Linked DNA regions of Homo sapiens. The protein of the gene in region 4 purifies or fractionates together with the protein of the main gene of each other region. This does not show direct contact. Each region holds a gene or a part of one and is shown on either strand. Other genes may lie near its edges.

Region 1 (4,949 bases), on a different chromosome or scaffold from region 4:
ACTAGGAACAGGAAACCCAGGATTCATTTCTCTGTACTGCCACCATGTTAGGGACAAATCAAGATTACCATCCCTATTGTAAGGATGGGGAAAATGCTCAGAACCTACCTTCTTGACAAGAAGGCTGATGGAAAAGATAAGGTATTTAAAGTTTTAACTTCCCAGGGAAAAAAATCCTAAATAAGTTCAGTTTACCACAGCTATAAGCCTTCCTCACCAAGACTTCTGCTTCTTCTTGCCCCAACTACATTTGTTTGCAGTGAGCCCTTACTAGCAACAAAAATGAAGCCATTTTCAGATATATTAATACAGTTTCCTAAACATGCTGGATACAAGAGTTACCTGAGGCTATTATTAAAAAGAGATTCCCAGAAACCATTTCAGATTTATTGACAGAATCATCAGGAGAAACCTAGGAGTGTGAATATTTATAAACACACTGGGTAATTTCTACGCTCTGGCAAAATTTAAGAAGTACTTGTAGCAAGAGCAACTCGTTGCAGTGCAAGAGAGTAATTAGAAATCCAGTGACTGAGCCACTAATCACTTCCTTACTCAGTCTACTTCAGCATATTAACATAATGCTGGTTAGCATTTCTGAGGGCCTACTATGTGCTGTCCTCCGTAGTAAACACACTGTATTTCACTTAGTGGTAACAATAACCTTTTGGAGTAGATACTATAAAGGTTGTGCCCCAGTTTTGTAGATAGGGAAAACTGAGGCTTTATATAATTTACCTGAGGACATGCAGTTTCTAAGTGGCCACTGGTTCAAAATCACCCACTACAGTGTTCAATTCCAGCATCAACTTAAAAAAAGCAAACACATGGCAAGAATTGAAATGGAAAATTCAGGTCTTTTGTTGATCAGTAGCTTCTCTAATTTCGACTTACTTTTTAATCCCTGCATGTGGTTCAAGTCTTTTGCCTAGGTTAAAACTAAAACTAAATATATATTTTGGATGCAAGATAATCATCTAATTGCTTGGAAAAAGGCAACCTACTCTATCTTTAGTGCGTACCTATGTGATCCTAAATGGGATGGGGCTGTGGACCTGGGTTGAGATGCTGCTGTTGATTAAAGTGAACCCCTGAATAGTCTGCTCAATAACTAGGCTTGCTATTTTGTTGTGAAAGGGAAAGACAGGACCCAGATTAACCATTAAAATTTTAACTTACACTCACACCATAAGAATGACCATCTGACTAATAGTCCAAGCCTCAAAACTATTAACTGGCTCCTAAGCATAAATTCTATTAATATTTTATTGAGACACTGTAAGCACATTCAGATATCTTCACAAGATGAGTTCCACTATGATAATCACATCAAGACTACAGTATTATTTTTATTTATTACCCACATACCAGTATTGTCAGATTTAAGAAAAAAAAATGCCTTTGAAAGAGCCAATAAGCTTCATAACAAAATGTCATGGGGATCTGCTGAGCAGTGGTGACTGCATCCTATGATATACAGAAACCTACACAAAATTTATAGTCCAATATGCACAAATGCTCTCTCTATATATTAATTATATCCTAGAGAAATTATCATATACATATACCAAAAAACACATAAAGAAATGTTAAGAGCAGTATCACTTAAAATAGCACCCTAAATGTCCAACAAGAGAATGGGTAAATTGTGATATATTCATATAGTGGAATACTAAATAGCAGTGGAAAATGAATGAACTAGAGCCACACATAACAACAACAAAACTCATAAAATGTTTAACTAAAAAAGCACATTTCAAATGATTACCTTCAATGTGATACCAATTAGTTTTAAAAACATGCTTATTTAGATATATAACAAATGTAGTACAAATATATAAAGAAATACACAGGAATACCACACATTAAATATCCAATTTAGGATAGCTTTGGCATGGGAAGGGCAAAGGGAAGGAAAACATCTGAAGCCACAGTTGTTTTCCTCCTCACATACTTTTACCACGTTTTATTTCTTAAAAAGAATGGTTGTAGTTTCTTAAGAGTGATTTTTAAATAGGCTAACAATTACTTGAATCTGAAAATGTGAATGCCATCCCAAAAGCTAAACTTTAATGATATTTTAAAACCGCAAACTTTGCATTATTCGGTCAAGTCATAAGAAATGGCTGATTTTTTGTAGGTCAAAAAGTCAAATATTAACAATTCCATACGGTTCAATCTAATATTAAGAATTCTGCATATGAAGAGCAAAACGTTGGTAATCATTCATTTTTTACCCCAAAACTTTACCATAAAATGGTCTATATTTAACGGCAAGACTCAGAAAACAGAGAAATAAAACTGAAGTGGAATGGATGACTTAATTGCCAAAGGATGAAAAACAAAGATAAACCATCTAATATACAAATTACAAGGCTGGGTGCAGTGGTTCACGCCTGTAATCCCAGCACTTTGGGAGGCCAAGGCAGGCGGATCATCTGAGGTCAGGAGTTCCAGAGCAGCCTGGCTAACATGGTAAAACCCCATTTCTACAAAAAATTAGCCAGGCGTGGTGGTGCGCGCCTGTAATCCCAGCTACTCAGGAGCCTGAGGCAGGAGAATCGCTTGAACCCAGGAGGCGGAGGTTGCAGTGAGCTGAGATCGCGCCATTGCACTCTGGCTTGGGCAACAAGAGCGAAACTCCATCTCAAATAAATAAATAAATAAATAAATAACTTAGAAACACATATTGTACAAAATGTGGCCAAACTACTTTCCACTGATATAAAGCATTATTACTTCTTTTTTCTTTTTTGGGGGGATACAGTCTAGTTTTGTCACCCAGGCTGGAGTGCAGTGGCACAATCTTAGCTCACTGCAACCTCTGCCTCCCAGGTTCAAGCAATTCCACAGCTGAGATTACAGGCGCCCACCACCACGCCCACCACCACACCCATCACGCCCAGCTAATTTTTGTATTGTTAATAGAGACGGGGTTTCACCATGCTGATCAGGCTGGTCTTGAACTCCTGACCTCAAGTGATCCTCCCACGTCGGCCTCCCAAAGTGCTGGGCTTACAGACGTGAGCCACTGTGCCCAGAAGCATTATTACTTCTTTTCAAAGTATTTGTATTAATACATATTAATAAATCCTTAAAAGACACTTGTTGGGCAAAACAAGGATTTATACATATAAAAACTGAAGTCCAGAGGAGAAACAACTGGTCCAAGGACAAACAGGCAGCAGTTACCAGTCAAAAAAAATCAAAACTAAATTCAGGTTCAGTTCCAAAATTAGCTACAGTAAATCAATCAGGTCAACAAACAAGTGATTTTTCTGTAATTCCAATCAAAGATTATGAAAGGAATAATTTAAGACAACAACAATCAATGGAGTTCTGTCTCAATATAAAAAGTTCTAAACTATAACTCATTTTTTTGTAAAACTCATTTTTCATAAAAATAACTTTAGGTAGTGATTAAACTATTAGATTAACTCATAAAACCAATGCATTTATAAATTAACTAGAAAACTATAATCTTTCAGCAACACTGAAGAAATTATACACTGCATAAGCAGTCTCTCAATCCCCTTCTCTTCTTAAATGTTCAGTGCTAGTATTTTCACAACAACAACAAAACAAGGTTTAAATTAGAATGCTGAAAGAAACTTTTGAAGAAAATATTGAAGAAGACTTGGAGGTATTGTGAAAGTTTTTCAAAGGTAACAGCAGTGGATTTTTTAGTGAATAAATACCACCTTAAAGAATAATCACAAAACTAAAAAAATGTAAGACAGGGACAGAGATTTTTTTTCCTGAGCTAACAGAGACAGAAACTAAAAGAAAGGAGTTAGAAAAGACAAATGAGAACTTACTGACGAGGAATTAACAGGGTCACTCCACAGCAAGAAGCACAAGAAACAGCGGCAGCGCTGTGTATGAACAGCCAGCCCCACAGGGAGAGATTCAACGATTCCCTATCCAAGCTGCAAGGTCACTACCCAGAATTAAAGTGAGAGAAAGAACTGGCCAAAGAATATGAGCATATCTGGGTCATTTTTGCAAATATTGGGCATTTTTAATCCAAGAAATATGCCTACTGAAACCTACCAATACCTACAATTAATGTCTTAAATGCTCTTATTTCTACTTCCTTCTGAGTAGGAAAGATGAATGACAAGCTATCCAAATTGTTTCAGGTATAAATGGCAGCCTGGATAGTCACAACCAATCATTCAATGCCAGATGTCTCTGGTATGACCTGTTCTCCTCATCAGGGTCCACTACAAGGAAAACAGCTCCAGGACACATGCATATTACACCGTTAGAGAAGGGGGATGGGGAAGACCAACCTGCCTCTGCATTCAGCTCCTCTAGAAGCCCGCTGGTCCTCCAGGTAGCTCCTGTGTCCTGGCCGCCTACAGAATTACTGTGCTCTTGAACTACTGCAGCCGCCAATAAATTGTCCACATTTACCACTTCTGGGTCAGAGTTGGTGTCAGACATATCATAATGAGCTACAACTGGAGGTCCATCTAGGGAGGAAAGAAAATGTATACTTGTATCTAACGTGTGGGGTGAAAAATACTTCTGAAACTAGTAAGAGCCCTCTAATGTCAGTTGCCTTCATTATTCTATCTCATCAGAAAAGCTGCACTTTATAGATCTAATATTTTGTACAAAATGTGAAAGTGAAAAAGATAATCCAAGCTTACAAAGATGATGGACACATTTTGGAAGGAGGAAAAGGAGTGTTACTATGAAGAACAGAAGACAAGACTATACTCAACAATGTTACACTGAATTCCTGTCATACTTTTAAAGAGCAAGATTAAGAAAAAAAGGATGACTCCACAGAGAAAGTGGAACTGATTTCTTAAAGGAAAAAACTGATGCAAATTATTAAAACCCAATTTATATTTTTTAAAAGAATGAATCTAGTTCTTTCTCTTACTGGGTAATATAAAAAGTCTCTAGTAGATTCAGAAAAGAAAATCAAATATATT
Region 2 (4,949 bases), on a different chromosome or scaffold from region 4:
CTCCTGGCCACACTTGGTAAGTGTGACAGACAGACTTCACAGTGGCCCCAGGCCCCCAGCTCCTGTAATCCCCTCCCACCTTGAGCACAGGTGAGATCTCTGACTTGCTTCTAAGTAGCGGAATTCACAAAAGGTGATGATGGGCTGTATCACAGAAGAGTTTAGCACCTATCTTATAAGAGTCTCTGTCTCTACTGCTGGCTCTGAAGAAGTAAAGCTGCCAAGAATGCTTCAGCCCTAAGAAAAGGAATTCTGTCCCCAGTCTAGAAGAGCCTGGATGTGGATCCTCTGAGTCAAGTCTCCTGATGAGAACCCAGCCCTAGCCAACACCCTGAATGCAGCCTTTATGAGACCCTAGGTTGAGTTCGCTGTGCCTGGACTCCTGCCCCACAGAAGCTAGGAAATAAATGGCTGCTGTTCGAAGCCACCAGGCCTGTAGTGATTTGTTGCCCAGCACAGAGAGGTAATACGGGGGATGCTGAAGAGCTGTCTGCTCAACAACCTAACAGATTCGCACCTGAACCAAGTCACTCACAGCACCTTCACAATACATCACAAGAGAATCAGGACTTGGAGGGACTGCACAGGGTCAGACATACAAGACACTTCAGTGGCCTGTGCCCTGCTGGCTGTGGTACTCTAGAAACAGTCCTCTCAATTCAGAATTCTCTCTCCCCTCTGGGTACTGCTCTTTTTTGGGGGCCATCTTCATTACTAATCACTCTTTCAATATTTTTTTTATTTTTTTAATTTAATTTTTTTTTTTTGAGACAGAGTCTCACTCCATTGCCCAGGCTGGAGTGCAGTGGCGCCATCTTGGCTCACTGCAACCTCCGCCTCCCAGGTTCACACTATTCTCCTGCCTCAGCCTCCTGAATAGCTGGGACCACAGGCACGTGCCACCACACCCGGCTAATTTTTTGCATTTTTAGTAGAGACGGAGTTTCACTGTATTAGCCAGGACGGTCTCAATCTCCTGACCTCATGACCCACCTGCCTCAGCCTCCCAAAGTGCTGGGATTATAGATATGAGCCACCACGCCCGGCCTCCTTTTATTTTTTTGAGATGGAGTCTTGCTCTGTCACCCAGGCTGAAGTGCTGTGGCTCGACCTTGGCTCACTGCAACCTCTGCCTCCCGGGTTCAAGTGCTTCTTCTACCTCAGCCTCCCGAGTAGCTGGGATTACAGGCACCCTCCACCACACCTGGCTAATTTTTGTAGAGAAGGGGTTTCACCATGTTGGCCAGGCTGGTCTTGAACTCCTGACTTCAGGTGATCCACCTGCCTTGGCCTCCCAAAGTGCTGGGATGACAGGCATCAGCCATCGTGACCGGCCTACATTTTTTTAAAAAGGTAATAACAATCATGAATGGAGTTGTTTTGGGTTTTATTTTCATAATTGTCCTCAGAAAGATAAGGTAAATGTGTGTACTGGCAGTTTTCCCATTTCTGAGCATGCTTTGTTGAGGAATAATAAAAGAGAATGACTCTGCCATAAAGACTATCTGCAGAAAAACACAGTTCTTATTAATTCAAGTTTCCTTTTGCTTAAAGAGCCAGAACTCAGTAATCTCCACAACTTCAGAATAAACCACCCAGGACTCATCAACATCATTTTATCCTGAAACCATATGGATTTTTCTTTATTCTTCCCCTTTAAATGCTGTTAAACCAAAACCAGAAGTAATACTCAGACCTCAGAACTACTATCTGGCTTGTAGTTAAAAACATGGATTTGGGTCAGGCGTGGTAGTTTACACCCATAATCCTAGCACTTTGGGAGGCTGAGGTGGGAGGACTGCTTCAGCCCAGGAGTTCAACACCAGCCTAGGCAACATGATGACATCCTGTCTCTCCAAAAAAAAAAAGAAAGAGAAAATATATATGGATTTGTTCCTTCTTTGAGAAACTGAAATTATATCTTGATTTTTTTTGGGGGGGGGACAATTTAGCATTTTTTTTCTAACTGTAGAAGTTCAAATGAAATATTATCTCTCTTTTTGAAATTTTTTTATTTTTTGTGGAGAGGAATCTCGCTATGTTGCCCAGGCTGGTCTTAAGCTCCTGGTCTCCCACCTCAGCCTCCTGAAGTGCTGGGATCACAGGAGTGAGCCACTGTGCTCGGCTGCAACATATATTATAGTGTGGAAATTGGCAACTATTCTCTACTCAGTTATTAGCAAACAACATATATGCCAACCCCGATGCTAAATTAAAACATGGACTATGATTAGTGATTGCTGTCTAGTTTATTTCTTATAAACTATATGGCCTTCTAATATTAAAACAATCTGTACACATTAAGGACACTGAGTAAACATTCATCATGCTTTTTGTAATGAATGTTTTACTTATTAATCATTCATCCTTATCTTCCTTCCCTACCAAATCAGAGTTTCTACCTGATTTTGACTTCCCCCTCTCCGCCTTCTAGGATGTGCTTTCAGCACAGTCTTTGGTGGCTGCTGTGCATTCTGACCCCCCTCTCTCCTCCCTCACACTGACTGTAAGTAGAAGAGCAGCAAAATGTCGCCGTATTTACCAGGAGGCAGGGGCTGTGTGACTGGGCCAACCTCAGCCCTCCTTACCTTGCACAGCCATGCTGGATGACCTGGCTCCTGACGCACACCTGGGCCATGGCTGCCCCACTCTCAAGCTTTCTCCATCTATGAGTCCCTGCAGCTTCACTACCCTGGCTGGCCACCCAACTCTAACTGCTTCTTCAGCCTTCTTCATGAGCTTTTGCTCCTCTTCCTACCTCCTTGACCAATCGGCACCCACCTCTGCCTGCAAGCTCTCATCATGCCTATGACTGCACAGATCACAGGGGCAGGGCTCATTTGGGAATCGTTTGTCCATCTCTCTTATTAGGTCATAAACTCCTGAGGGCAAGAACTGTGTCCTGTTCATGACTCAACAGTAGACAGTCAATTAATGCAATCAACCTCACTGATTATATGAACTCAAAAAGTTACGCTAGACTCTGCCTTCTCTGTTCGTCCCTGTGTCACTGATTGAGTCTACTCCACTGACTGACTATCGCGCCCAGGCAGAAAACCCTCAGTTCCTCCTTTCTAGCGGACAATATTCATCCCAAGTGCAAAGAATTTCAGTAAGAACATTTAACATAGCCTGAATCAGACCTATGAATACTTTTTATTCCAAACCTTCAGGAAAGTTAAACTTCCTGCCTCCTGAAGCCACCCTGCTTCCTGAAGCCACCCATCTCATCTGTGATCTGGTCCAAGGGCCACGCCTGTCTTAGGCTGGAACGTGCCCACTTGTCCAGTACTGGCTGGCAGCATACAAGGATACTGGCCCCTCTGAGGCCTTCTTTCCCCACACTGACATGTCCTCACATCTACACCACTTGAGGTCATGTGGCGTTAGGACGGACCATCGTGACCCCCATCTAAGAGGTCTGATGTGCAGCATGGAAGGGATCTGTTCCAGAGCCCTGTGTCTGATGATGTGGCTGCGGGACTGAGACCCCAAGGGCAGTGTTCTAATACAGCTCTAAGAACTGAGTATTTAATGATCCTGGTAAAGTCAAGATGAACCTGAAAGGTGCACCGTACGTTGCATGTTCCCATCTCCCCACTCCCATTGTCTGCAGCTGTGCTGTGGCCTCTTCATCCTGTCATCCTGTTTTTTTCCAGGCTTTCAAACGCAGGCTAAGATCCTACCTATTCTTTGAGGTCATTTCCAAGGGCTACCTTCCACATAAAATTTTCTCTCCAGTCCTTGCAAAAGAATGAAATTCTTCACGGCAACCCTGTAACACAGAACACATCCTGTGTGTCTGCCCTCCTATCACAGTGTGGGCTCACTTTCCCTGTGTGCTGCAGGCCCCATAAGCCCGCCTTCTGGACCATGCCGGGCTCTGTGTCCCTGCAATAAGCAGCTGAGGGGCTCCCACGCTGTGGACAGGGAGTGGATACCCATGGAACACAGTCATCAGGCCCCAGACAGCCAGGATTTGCTGTTAAGACAAAAGCCTAAATACCTGACTGACCGATTTCAAAAGTGCCACCTCTCTCGCTTGCTTGTGGGATGGTGGGGACTGAGCTGACACAGCTGGTCATCCAGCTGCCTACGCATTCTCTGTGCTCTTGTCCCCACTGAGTCCAAACACAAGGTTATCTTTAAAAAATAAAACAATACCAGGAATCCTTCACCTCTACATTTTATTGTAATTTACCTCAGAAGTTAAACAACCCTAGTGCTTCTTCATGACTTTGAAGGTGAAGGTATTCAGATACTGCATAAAAGACAGCAATCGCACTTGCTGTAAGAACACCAACACTGATGCTTTTAGAACAAAAGGTTTATCATCAAGTGGTGGCACCATTCTTACCAGATTATCGAGCATCCGCATGAGGGCTTCAAATTCCTGCTCACCAATCTGCCACTTGGGAGGCGATCCAGTGCCTTCCCCTACCGGAGACCCTGGGGAACGGGACTTGGCTTTGTACTTCTCAGGATTCAGCAGGACTAAGTTGTCTGGTCCTCCTGCACTGGCCAGAGTTCGAACCTTTTCCAAAACACACACAGCATGGCTTGAGTTCCTTACTGAGATCAAGAGGGTCAGATGACTTGAATAAAAATGTAGGTTTCAAAAGAAACCAAATCTCTAGAGTGTAAGAATAAAAAATGTAGAATGGATAGTGACAGACTGATCACAAAGTTACTTTCAGAAGTATTTCTTTAGCATGACAAAAATATTGGGCACCAAAGTTGGCAGAGAAATGAGAAAACACAGCACCTTTCAGGATCCTACAAAGGACTTGGGACTTCACTACGCCACAGACATAAGTCAAGAAGCAGAGGGGAGAACGTGAACTAACGGCTGACGGAGCGGAGGGGAACTCACAGCTGTAAGCTGCAGGCAAGTCTCTGAGTCTCTACTTCTGTATACCTGCTTTTTCAAAGAGTACTGTGGGGGTCAC
Region 3 (4,949 bases), on a different chromosome or scaffold from region 4:
AGAACAAGAACTTAAATAGAAACAAGCCTTTTATTTTCAGCAGCTGACAGTCATTACGGCTTATCTCCAAAGACACCCTTTCCTTGGAGATTCACCTTTTTAGAGTGAATTTTATAACACGGTATTTGGATGAGAATATATTCCACATATGCTGGATGAACAAATATATGTACACTAATATCAATCACTTGCCCCAATTTGTTCAATTCCTATATTTTCCGTAGAGTCCTCTTTCTCATTCATCCTCCCAAATAGTCAGTCAACCTCCCATCGATTCTAACTCTTAAAATTGGTCTCAAATACTCTCAAATACTTAGTTCTCTCTGCTATCATATCGTAATTCACTTCCCACTTAAGCATGGATTGGAGGTCAAAGATAAACAAAATACCAAAATACAGCTATAAAGATCACACTATCTTGAAAAAATGTAAATCAACTTGAGTTTCTTCACTGTTAAAAATTCTTCACTGATCCCATTGACTATAAGATGATAAAATCCAAACTATTTACCATAGCAGATAGACCTCTGAGAAATGCTTTTTGCTGTAATTCTGATCCCACTTTATTGCCGGTAAAAACAAAGTATGTATTTTCATTTCACAATTCATGCCTTTGCACAAGCTGCTCCCTCTCTACCTATGAATGCCATTTCCCTCTCTTCTCTTGACTTCCTCAATTCCTGAACAAGTCTTACTACTTGCTTTAAAGCACAGTTCCCTTAGCAAGTCTTCCCTCACTAATACTTTCCACTCAGCACATTTCATTTTCATCATTTGCTTGCCTGGCTATCCCAGACTATGCAGCTGTTGAGAACAGAGTCTCCATTATTAGTCCAGGTGCCACCAGTGAAGAGTAAATTGTAGTTAATCATCAATGTTTGTTAAATCTGACACACACACACAGCCCCCCACACTGAAGTTTCTCTTATTTATAAATCAACCCCAAGGAAATATAAAGCTTTTTGTAGTAGGAAAGCTTTGGAAGTAGTCTTGAAAACGCTTATACTTGTTACCAAAATACCTTAAATATTTAGCAATCTTTGCACAGAAGGAATTTGCACCTAACTTTTAAGTGACAACAGAAAATAGTTTATAAATAAGTTTCAAATCAGAGAAAATATATTTTTTAACATTTATTCAAGAGTAAAAACATACTCTGAAAACGTGTACCTGGGCTGTTTGTGGACTGCTAGGTAGCCTGTTCATGCCTAGTAGATACTCAAATACTTTTTACAATGAAAAGAAATGAAAAATGAGAGTTTGATCTCATATCCATTACCAGTTACATGTCCTATAAAAAAGCAGATCAATAAAAGGAGAACTAAAAAAAAGGGGGGGAGCTTGCACAATGAATCCAAAAAGCAGGTAATCTAATTGTAAATAATCCAGAATTGAGTATGTTATATCAGCTGCCACATACTCTCCCTCCCGGTAATTGAGTCAGACAATTACTTTCAAGTAAGGTTGAATGGTCTTAAGTCACAATGGCCTAATACAAATAATACTTATTTCCATATAAGAATGACAATTTTCTTGCAAGAAAAACAGATACCATAAACTTTTCAAAGCCCTCTGGAAACTTTTTTTTTTTTTTTTTTTTGAGATAGAGTCTTGCTCTGTCGCAGTGGCACGATCTTGGATGTCTGTAATCTCCGCCTCCCAGGTTCAAGCAATTCTCCTGCCTCAGCCTCCTGAGTAGCTGGGACTCGGCGCACATCACCACACTCGGCTAATTTTTCTATTTTTGCTAGAGACGGGGTTTCACCATACTGGTCTGGCTGGTCTCAAACTCCTGACCTCAGGTGATCCACCAGCCTCAGCCTACCAAAGTGCTGGGAGTAAAGGCATGAGCCGCCATGCTCAGCCACAATTTTTTAATGTAAGTAATTTTTACTTCTTTAGAAAAATTATATGACTAGCACACCATGTCTAATAAAAGGATAATTCCATAAACTTTTACCAGGTCCCACTCATTTACAAGCAAAAAAACCCCAAAAAAACAAAATAAAAAATAAAAACCAAATAAAAGATTGATAGCTCACCACAATTCACATGATTAAAATGATCCCAGCCCTTGGGAGGCCAAGGTGGGTGGATCACTTGAGGTCAGGGGTTGAAGACCAGCCTGGCCAACATGGTGAAACCCCGTCTCTACTAAAAATACAAAAAAAATTCGCCAGGCATGGTGGTGCACACAGGTAATCCCAGCTACTCCGGAGGCTGAGGCAGGAGAATCACCTGAACCCAGGAAGTGGAGGTTGCAATGAGCTGAGATCACACCCTTGCACTCCAGCCTGGGAAACAGAGTGAGTCTCTATCTCGAAAAAAAAAAAAAGATAGCAGCCCTATAAATTAAAAATCAATTACTCTTTCTCAGGCCATATTTACAGACTGTTTTTTTCTGGCTCATAGTTCAGCATTCGGTTTTGCGGACCCATGCCTAAAAGGAAAAAGTGTTAATACATTCTCATTTCTTGCAAGTAGCATCACTTCATCATTTCAGTATAAAAGAAAAATGATCACTTACCTTTTGATGCTGTCAAAATAGTACTTAACAATTATTGACAGATTAGATTTACTACCACAGGACCATTGTTTTTCCTATTTTTCTAATGACAAAACCAGGTGTTTCTAGACTATAAATTGGGTTTTAAAATTCATAAGTGATCAGAATTCCTAGAAAGCTCCAGATTTTTTATGTCAAGCCACAGACATGTCGAAGTGGTATAAACTTTTGATGTTCAAGAATCAGGATAGATTAATGAATTGTGACACTCTATAAAGTACCAAAAGCTAAAGGTCTATAATTAAACATATAATTATATATCCAATTCTGAGTTACAAACGTGCTGTTATTCAAAAGCACATTCTTTTCCACTGAAAATCCATTTCCTTTCCTCCTTGTAGCTGAAAATTGAGTCATTATAATACAATCAAAAGACTTTGTGTAAATCAAACAAGCAATTTTGCTTTGTGCTAAACATCATAAAGTATAAGGAAATATAACCATAGCTAAACAGTAATATCACTATCATTATTACAATTTATAATTATTTTAAAATAGAATTAATTAAAATATAAAACATTCAACCACAAACACTGGAGATAAATATTTTTATATTTAGAGAATATAAAAGTCACCTTTCACTCATGAGCTCATCTGAGACTTTTTGCTCTTCACATTCCATTTTGTCCTTATTGGTCTGGTTCGTTTCCTCACTTTCTAAAACTACTCCTTCATCTTGGATTTTTGGTCCTTGTCTGATTATTTTCAACTTTCTTTTTTTGACTTTGTTCTTGGTAAATTCTTGATACTGGTAGGCTCTATCACTGTCCATGTCCTGATCTCTACAACCCTCAGGTGGCTGGGTCATTGTCCGTTTGTTAGAGATGTCCTGTGGGAGATCTACTGCCATGCGTTTTACCTTTCTCCTCCTGCGCAGAGTTCTATTCCCAACATTGTCCACAGCAAAATCAGACTCATGCCATAGAGGTCTTTTCCCTCGAACATTATTATTTAAGTTTGATGACGGCCTGCGCTTTGCTACTAACATTTGGTCATCAGAGTCACTGTGATCTTTTTTATTATTATTGTGATTCTCTCTATAGTCCTTGCTTGGTTCTTCTAAACTAGAATCAGAGCCTTCACTTAAGCAGTGACCAGTCTCCCACGGGTGATGCACATTATACGACCTCCGTTTTCTCCCTCTCCTTTTCCTTGCCTGGCGTTTCAGAGGGCAAGATATACTTCGAGAATGGTCTCCTGTTTCAGCAAATCCACCTCGAGCTTGCTCTGAGCTCTCTTCCAATGCTGAGACAAGGTCATGAACCAGCTCCTCCATGGTTCTACTGAAATGCCTTCATTTTTTAGAGAAAGAAAAAAGAAAATAGTCAGTCTTAACCACAGTAACCTCATTTTCTATAACAGACAATTCATTCTAAATTCGACAAAAATTAATGATTACAAAATGTTTCAAAGCTAATTTTCCTATCCAAGATATTACAGTTTTAAATATTGATTCATTTTAGGCCTCTTCTTATATAAGTTCTTTTATTAAACATAGGAATTACTTCCAAGATAGAATAAGCTTATGAGCAATGAAAGATCCCAGTATTTTTATATTTTTCTGTATAATTATGGAAAAGTTCTGTTTAAATCCCTATCCGCTGGCCCACTCCTACCCCTTTTCTAGAGCCAGTTTTCCTACAGCAGATACAGAAAGAACTTTCTCAGTCCCCTCTTCGCCCACTAATCTCTAAGTAAAAAAAGAAACATGAAATCTTCTATTCACCACGTGCCCTAACCAGTCACTGTCATATAAGAGGCAGTTAGAAAGACAGACAGGTAGTTTCAGGATTAGTAATATACGTGAAAGTTTAACCAACACCATGCATTTATTTAGGCCACACTAATCTCTTAACCCAGTGAAGCACAAACTACATTCGCATTCAAATTGGAGCCTCACTGGTTTCAAAGGGCCCATCATTACTTCATTCTGAAGCAATCTCTTAGGCTTTCCTTTTTTAAGAGCATTAAACTATATTACCAGTATGAAAATTATCCAGTAGTCAGCAAGAATAAGCATAAGCATTCTTTGGGAATTTTTATAAATTATACCTGTCCTTTTAAAACCCAATTCCCAAAGATTTTAAATTAGTTGGGGTGACATACAGCCAAGGTATCTGGTTTTATTTTTTAAACATCACAGGCAATTCAGATTTGCACCCGTCTTATGAAGACCACAGGCAATCATTTCTAAAATCGAGATCTAGAGGCACCTAGGGATTGAAATATTCTCAACAGTCATACAGAGCTTCTAGAGCCTACAGCAGGAGTAGGCTTTTATGTAACTGGCCTGCTAGTAAATATTCTAGGCTTTGCAGGCCATTGGGTCTCCCAAAACTACTCAACTTGCCACTATAATGCAAAAATAGCCACAAGCAATACA
Region 4 (4,949 bases):
TAAACTCATCTGCCTCGGATCCTCCTCCTCTGAGCAGATGCTCAATTAAACTTTTTCTAGTATCTTAATAATTGGAGGTATTAATAGATGTTTTATTTTTGAGATACATATTGTACATTTTAGATCTTTTTTTTTTTCTAAAGTAGGGATCCAAAATTGAGGTGAAATATATTTGCTTACATGGCAAGACTTTTTAAAAGTAGAATTTCTGTAATTGAAGACCATCCTTTTTTGTGTGTGAATAGAATGGTTGCGGTTTCTCTTGGGATCATTGATTAGTGAATTACGATTTGGTTAAGATAGAATGCGTTTTTAGGAAGTTGGAGGTTTGACTAATCGCTGTGTTAGCATATGAGTAACAAATTTGAAGAAGATACAAGCATTTTTATGGCTGACGTTTCTAATCAGATAATTTTATTTTTAAGCTTGCTCTGTTTTACTTTTGTTAAGTGAACATTTTAACATGTTTTAAAGCTCTTTGATAATTATAAGGGAGAATTTCCTTATGAAAATATTTTTGCTTTAATTTTAGAGACACAAGAAGTCAAGGAATTCAGTTAATAACACTTTCACTTAATCGTTAAATTGCCTTAAAATTGCATGCATAGTATATTGTAATTCACATTTTCTGTATGTAAGATTGGCAGTTAAGAATAGTATTCTGGCCGGGCGCAGTGGCTCAAGCCTGTAATCCCAGCACTTTGGGAGGCCGAGGCGGGCGGATCATAAGGTCAGGCGTTCGAGACCAATATGGTGAAACCCCGTGTCTACTAAAAATACAAAAATTAGCCGGGCATTGTGGCGCGCGCCTGTAGTCCCAGCTACTCGGGAGGCTGAGGCAGAAGAGTTGCTTGACCCGGAAGGCCGAGGTTGCAGTGAGCCGAGATCACGCCACTGCACTCCAGCCTGGGCAACAGAGGGAGACTCCGTCTCAAAAAAAAAAAAAAAAAAAAAAAAAATAGTATTCCTAGGCTTACTACTTTTAAAGGATACTGATTGATTCTTCTTTTCATAAAGAAATCTTCTGCACTGTATGGGTATTTGTTTTGTCAGAAACATTAGCAGTCATTTATCTACTACCTTTCCACTTAGGAAAACTTCAAATGTCAGTTGCTTTAGTTTTTCATAATATTGATGACAAAATTCAGTGATTTTATGTTTAAGTACTGTAGTTTGTATTCTATGCTGGGCTGTTATCAAAGGCTATTTCTTTGAATATTTCAGTTAAGAAATGTTCTTATAAAGTTACAAGCATGTATTTTTATTTAAATATGTTGTAATGTTGCAATTTTCAGGGCATACTTTATTAAGTTTTTTATTATCCTTTTTCCAGAACATTTAACCTCAAACTTCAGTGCCATTTAAAACATATATATTAGTTTCTTTTAATATTTATATGCATTGTATTTTGGTTCATCCCTGACCCTTTGCAATTACTCCAAAAGAGGGTGTAGTGATACTGTAAGCATTGAAAAATTTTAACAGTGAGATGGTAATTTCCTCTTTAATCCTTAAAGGCAGATTCCATTTTGCATTGTAATAGTTACTGAATAAATAGTACTTAAGCGGTGCTATTAAGTAAACAATATTTTACAACAGAAACCCAATTTTCCGTCTTGTGAGTGACAAGCACCATGCATTTGTTGCCCACCCCGGAATCCCCCACTCTATTTCCGTTTTTCAACCTTTTATCCTGGTTCACAATTAACAGGTTTAACTCTTTTTCTGGAGGTGGGAAGACACAGCATTAGGCCTTAGGGTCTTGGCACAGAGTCAGGCCTAGGAGTCATTGCCTGACACTTCAGCCCTTGGATAGTATATACTAGAATGGTTGGATTAGAGTTAGTTTAGCTGACTTCCTATTGTGATTTTTAGAGGATTAAGTTTATGAATTATATTTTCTGTTCAAAATATTTTAAAAAACAAAACCTGTTGGCAGAATACATATGAGGAATATAATCTCTTCCTTGAAATTGAAAATCATCATCATTTCCATCTTGATACCAATACTTCTAATCAATGACTAATTAAAAACACATACTTCTGCCACACCAGGAGAAAGTTCTTCCTTTACTTTTGATGGACGTTAAATCTCTTTTTCAGTTTCCTAGGGAAAGCTTGCTAGCAGTAAATGCCTTAAATGCCTATGTAGAAAGGAGTTGCTTCCCTTAGAATCTTCGGGCTTACTTTGCTTCCTGTTGCCTTTCCAATGTACTTCATGATGATCTAGACTTATCAGTGATAAATCTTGATAGGACACTTACCTGAATCTCCTGATTTTTGGAGGCTCTTAAAAGAGTGATGTTCTTAACTGCAGTAGGTATTTGTATTAGTAGCTTATATTAAAAACAAGTAGCCACCTTGTCTGGAAACAGTGGTAAAAACAAAAGGTCTATTGGCATTACATTATAGTATATGACAAAATAATTTTATCTGTGTTTCCAGACTTTGTGGCTACCTGTTTAGAACTGACATTTTGTAAGTGCAATTTAAAATAGTTACTTTATTTGTCCAAATGCTGAATTAAGCAGAGACTAGCTGCATTCAGAGCTCCAGTACTGTAAATTCAAGATGGATCTCAAGTTCTCCTAACCCCTCGAAGACATGAGATATACCTACAAATTCTTTTTTCTATATCTCATAATTCTTACAATTCAGTTCATCAAACATTTTTAAAATTCCTACCGGGTGGCAGATACCATGCTGGTTGCTTAGGCACAAAAGTAAAAGGATGCTGCCCTTTAAACACTGAACAGAATTGCAATCTAACATGTTACATTTTGAGGTAAAGAAGTATGCCAAGGATCCTCTTATTTGAAGCATAAAGGAGAAGCCTTTAAATCAGCCTGTGGTTTTTAGGCAAAGCTTCCTGGGGGAGAGGCCATTCTGTGTTGAGTTTTGAAGGATGTGTAAGAAGAGTTAGCCATTTAAGGAAAGTAGAAAGGCTTTTTCAGGCAAAGAAGTATAACAAAGATGTGGTGGCAAAATATGAAATATGAGTGCGGCAGGAAATGTAGCTGGTGTATACTTGGCCTCAGAGGCCTTTATGTGTCATGCTGTAAGTACTTGAAAGCTTGTAGATACTGGGGAGCTAATGAAGGAATCAAAACAGACAATTTGATTTTCTAAATGTCTTTATTATTGTATATTCTATTTTTTAAAAACTTTCTTATTTGATAATTTTGAAATAAATATCATGATAAATACTTTTTAAAATAGAGCTAGAGGTTTATAGAGATAGTCTTGCTTTTGTTCACATCACACTTGCTTTCTGCATTCAAGTAAGTGAAGGCCCAGATCAAGCCTAACATTTCCTTCTTTTCCTTCCTTCACTGATCTACTTCCAAATTCTTTTGGTAATTATTATAATGAGAATTAATGAAAAAAATCTTTAAAAATAAGTGAGATACCATTATTTGTAGTAGTACTGTGTGATTAAAAGCTTAATTGTGTCTTACCTTCTATTACACTTTTTATAGGATCTAATCGTGTATACACATGCATATAAATTTACTTACCAGGTCCCTTAAGATTTTTTTTAAATGCTATAACCTGATAAAATGTTATGAAATGAATTTCAAATGGAGTGAGACATATAGGTAATTTAGAATCGGTAATATGAAGTGTGGTAGAAGACAAGAAAAGGCCTGGGAATTGTTGGAGTTAAAGAGAATTTGGTGGGAAATTTAGGAAGATACAAGAAGGAGCGACAGAGAGCTGACTCATAACCTGCATGTACCTTATATGAAGGGCAACCAGATGTTTGAGGAGGGCTTGGTGGACAAAGGTGACATTCATGCTCCACTATATGCAAAACTGGCCAAAGGAGAGGAAATGGAAAAATATCTTGGCTCTGACAATTGGTTCAGATGCAGTAAATAAAAGGAAAATGAACTTAAGAAATGCTTAATGGATGCCTAAAGCAGCTTGTGATGTAGGTATATTTTTAATAAATAGATGAACTTATGAGGAAATTGGTACCCATATTGATCTTTCAGAACAATGGAAAAAAATCAGTGAAACTGAGCGCTATCAGAACTAAGAAGATACATAAGTAGTTAAAACAGAAAACAAAAATACTTTTAAGAATGAAGTTTAGACTAAGTTGGGATGAGAATTTTGTACATGGAAACAGTACAGCTGTTCAACAATGGCAGGGAACTGCAGGGAGAGTATTTTTGGGTAGAATGTTAATTTTGTTTTGTGGAACAATAGCGATATGCCCTTGTGACTTGCACTGTACCTGTGTCAGTGGACATGAGTTCAGCATATTTTAATTTTTAATCCTTGCAGCACTGGAAGATCAATTCTTTTATCATCCATACTTTAGAGGCAGCAAAATCGAAGCTTTCTTCACCAGTAAAAGGGAATGCGAAGTAAATCACAACAAAATTCCATTTCACCTTCATCACACTAGAATAGCCAAACTTAAAAGTCTGAATTGGGCAAGTATTGTCAAAGTAGTGATAAACCGTCCCATCCAGTGCTAGTGGGAGTGTAAACTGGGGGTGGAAAGAAGGGGCTATGTCTAATATGTTTTATTTTTAATTTAAATGAAATATGACCAAGTAATAAGATTGGAAAGTAAATGTTTGTATATAGTGTTCCTTATCTTACATTTGAAATATTATATATTTTGTTTTCTTTTTAAATAACTGTGTTGCCGCAGATCAGGCGACTTAACAGAAGTATATTTTCTCAACGATTCTGGAGGCTAGAAATCTGGGATCAGGGTGTCTGCGGGGTTGGTTTCTTCTGAGGCCTGCCCTCTTGGCTTGTAGATGGCTGCCTTCTCCTAGTGTGTTCACATAGTCTTTCCTCTGTGTGTGTCTGTGTCCTAATTGGCCCACTTTAATGACCTCATTTTAACTTAATCACCTTTTTAAAGGCCCTGTCTCCAAAGACAGTCACATTATGAGATACAGGGGTTAGGGTTTTTCAACTTAGGA

The links.
Region 1: the proteins of STK17B (region 4) and ARK2N purify together in Homo sapiens (affinity purification with mass spectrometry, with the first as the bait; one large-scale study listed by BioGRID). This does not show direct contact.
Region 2: the proteins of STK17B (region 4) and ADD1 purify together in Homo sapiens (affinity purification with mass spectrometry; one large-scale study listed by BioGRID and IntAct). This does not show direct contact.
Region 3: the proteins of STK17B (region 4) and GPATCH2 purify together in Homo sapiens (affinity purification with mass spectrometry, with the first as the bait; one large-scale study listed by BioGRID). This does not show direct contact.

What each region holds. Positions count from the first base shown.
Region 1 is NC_000018.10:46,239,534-46,244,482, reverse strand, and holds part of ARK2N (protein ARK2N), read right to left. Parts: intron 4,479-4,949; coding exon 4,296-4,478; intron 1-4,295. UniProt on the Homo sapiens protein: AMPK substrate important for exercise capacity and skeletal muscle function.
Region 2 is NC_000004.12:2,898,844-2,903,792, reverse strand, and holds part of ADD1 (alpha-adducin), read right to left. Parts: intron 4,535-4,949; coding exon 4,358-4,534; intron 1-4,357. UniProt on the Homo sapiens protein: Membrane-cytoskeleton-associated protein that promotes the assembly of the spectrin-actin network. Binds to calmodulin.
Region 3 is NC_000001.11:217,616,642-217,621,590, forward strand, and holds part of GPATCH2 (G patch domain-containing protein 2), read right to left. Parts: intron 3,859-4,949; coding exon 3,142-3,858; intron 1-3,141. UniProt on the Homo sapiens protein: Enhances the ATPase activity of DHX15 in vitro.
Region 4 is NC_000002.12:196,165,079-196,170,027, reverse strand, and holds part of STK17B (serine/threonine-protein kinase 17B), read left to right. Parts: intron 1-4,293; exon of another isoform or gene 4,294-4,445; intron 4,446-4,949. UniProt on the Homo sapiens protein: Phosphorylates myosin light chains. Acts as a positive regulator of apoptosis.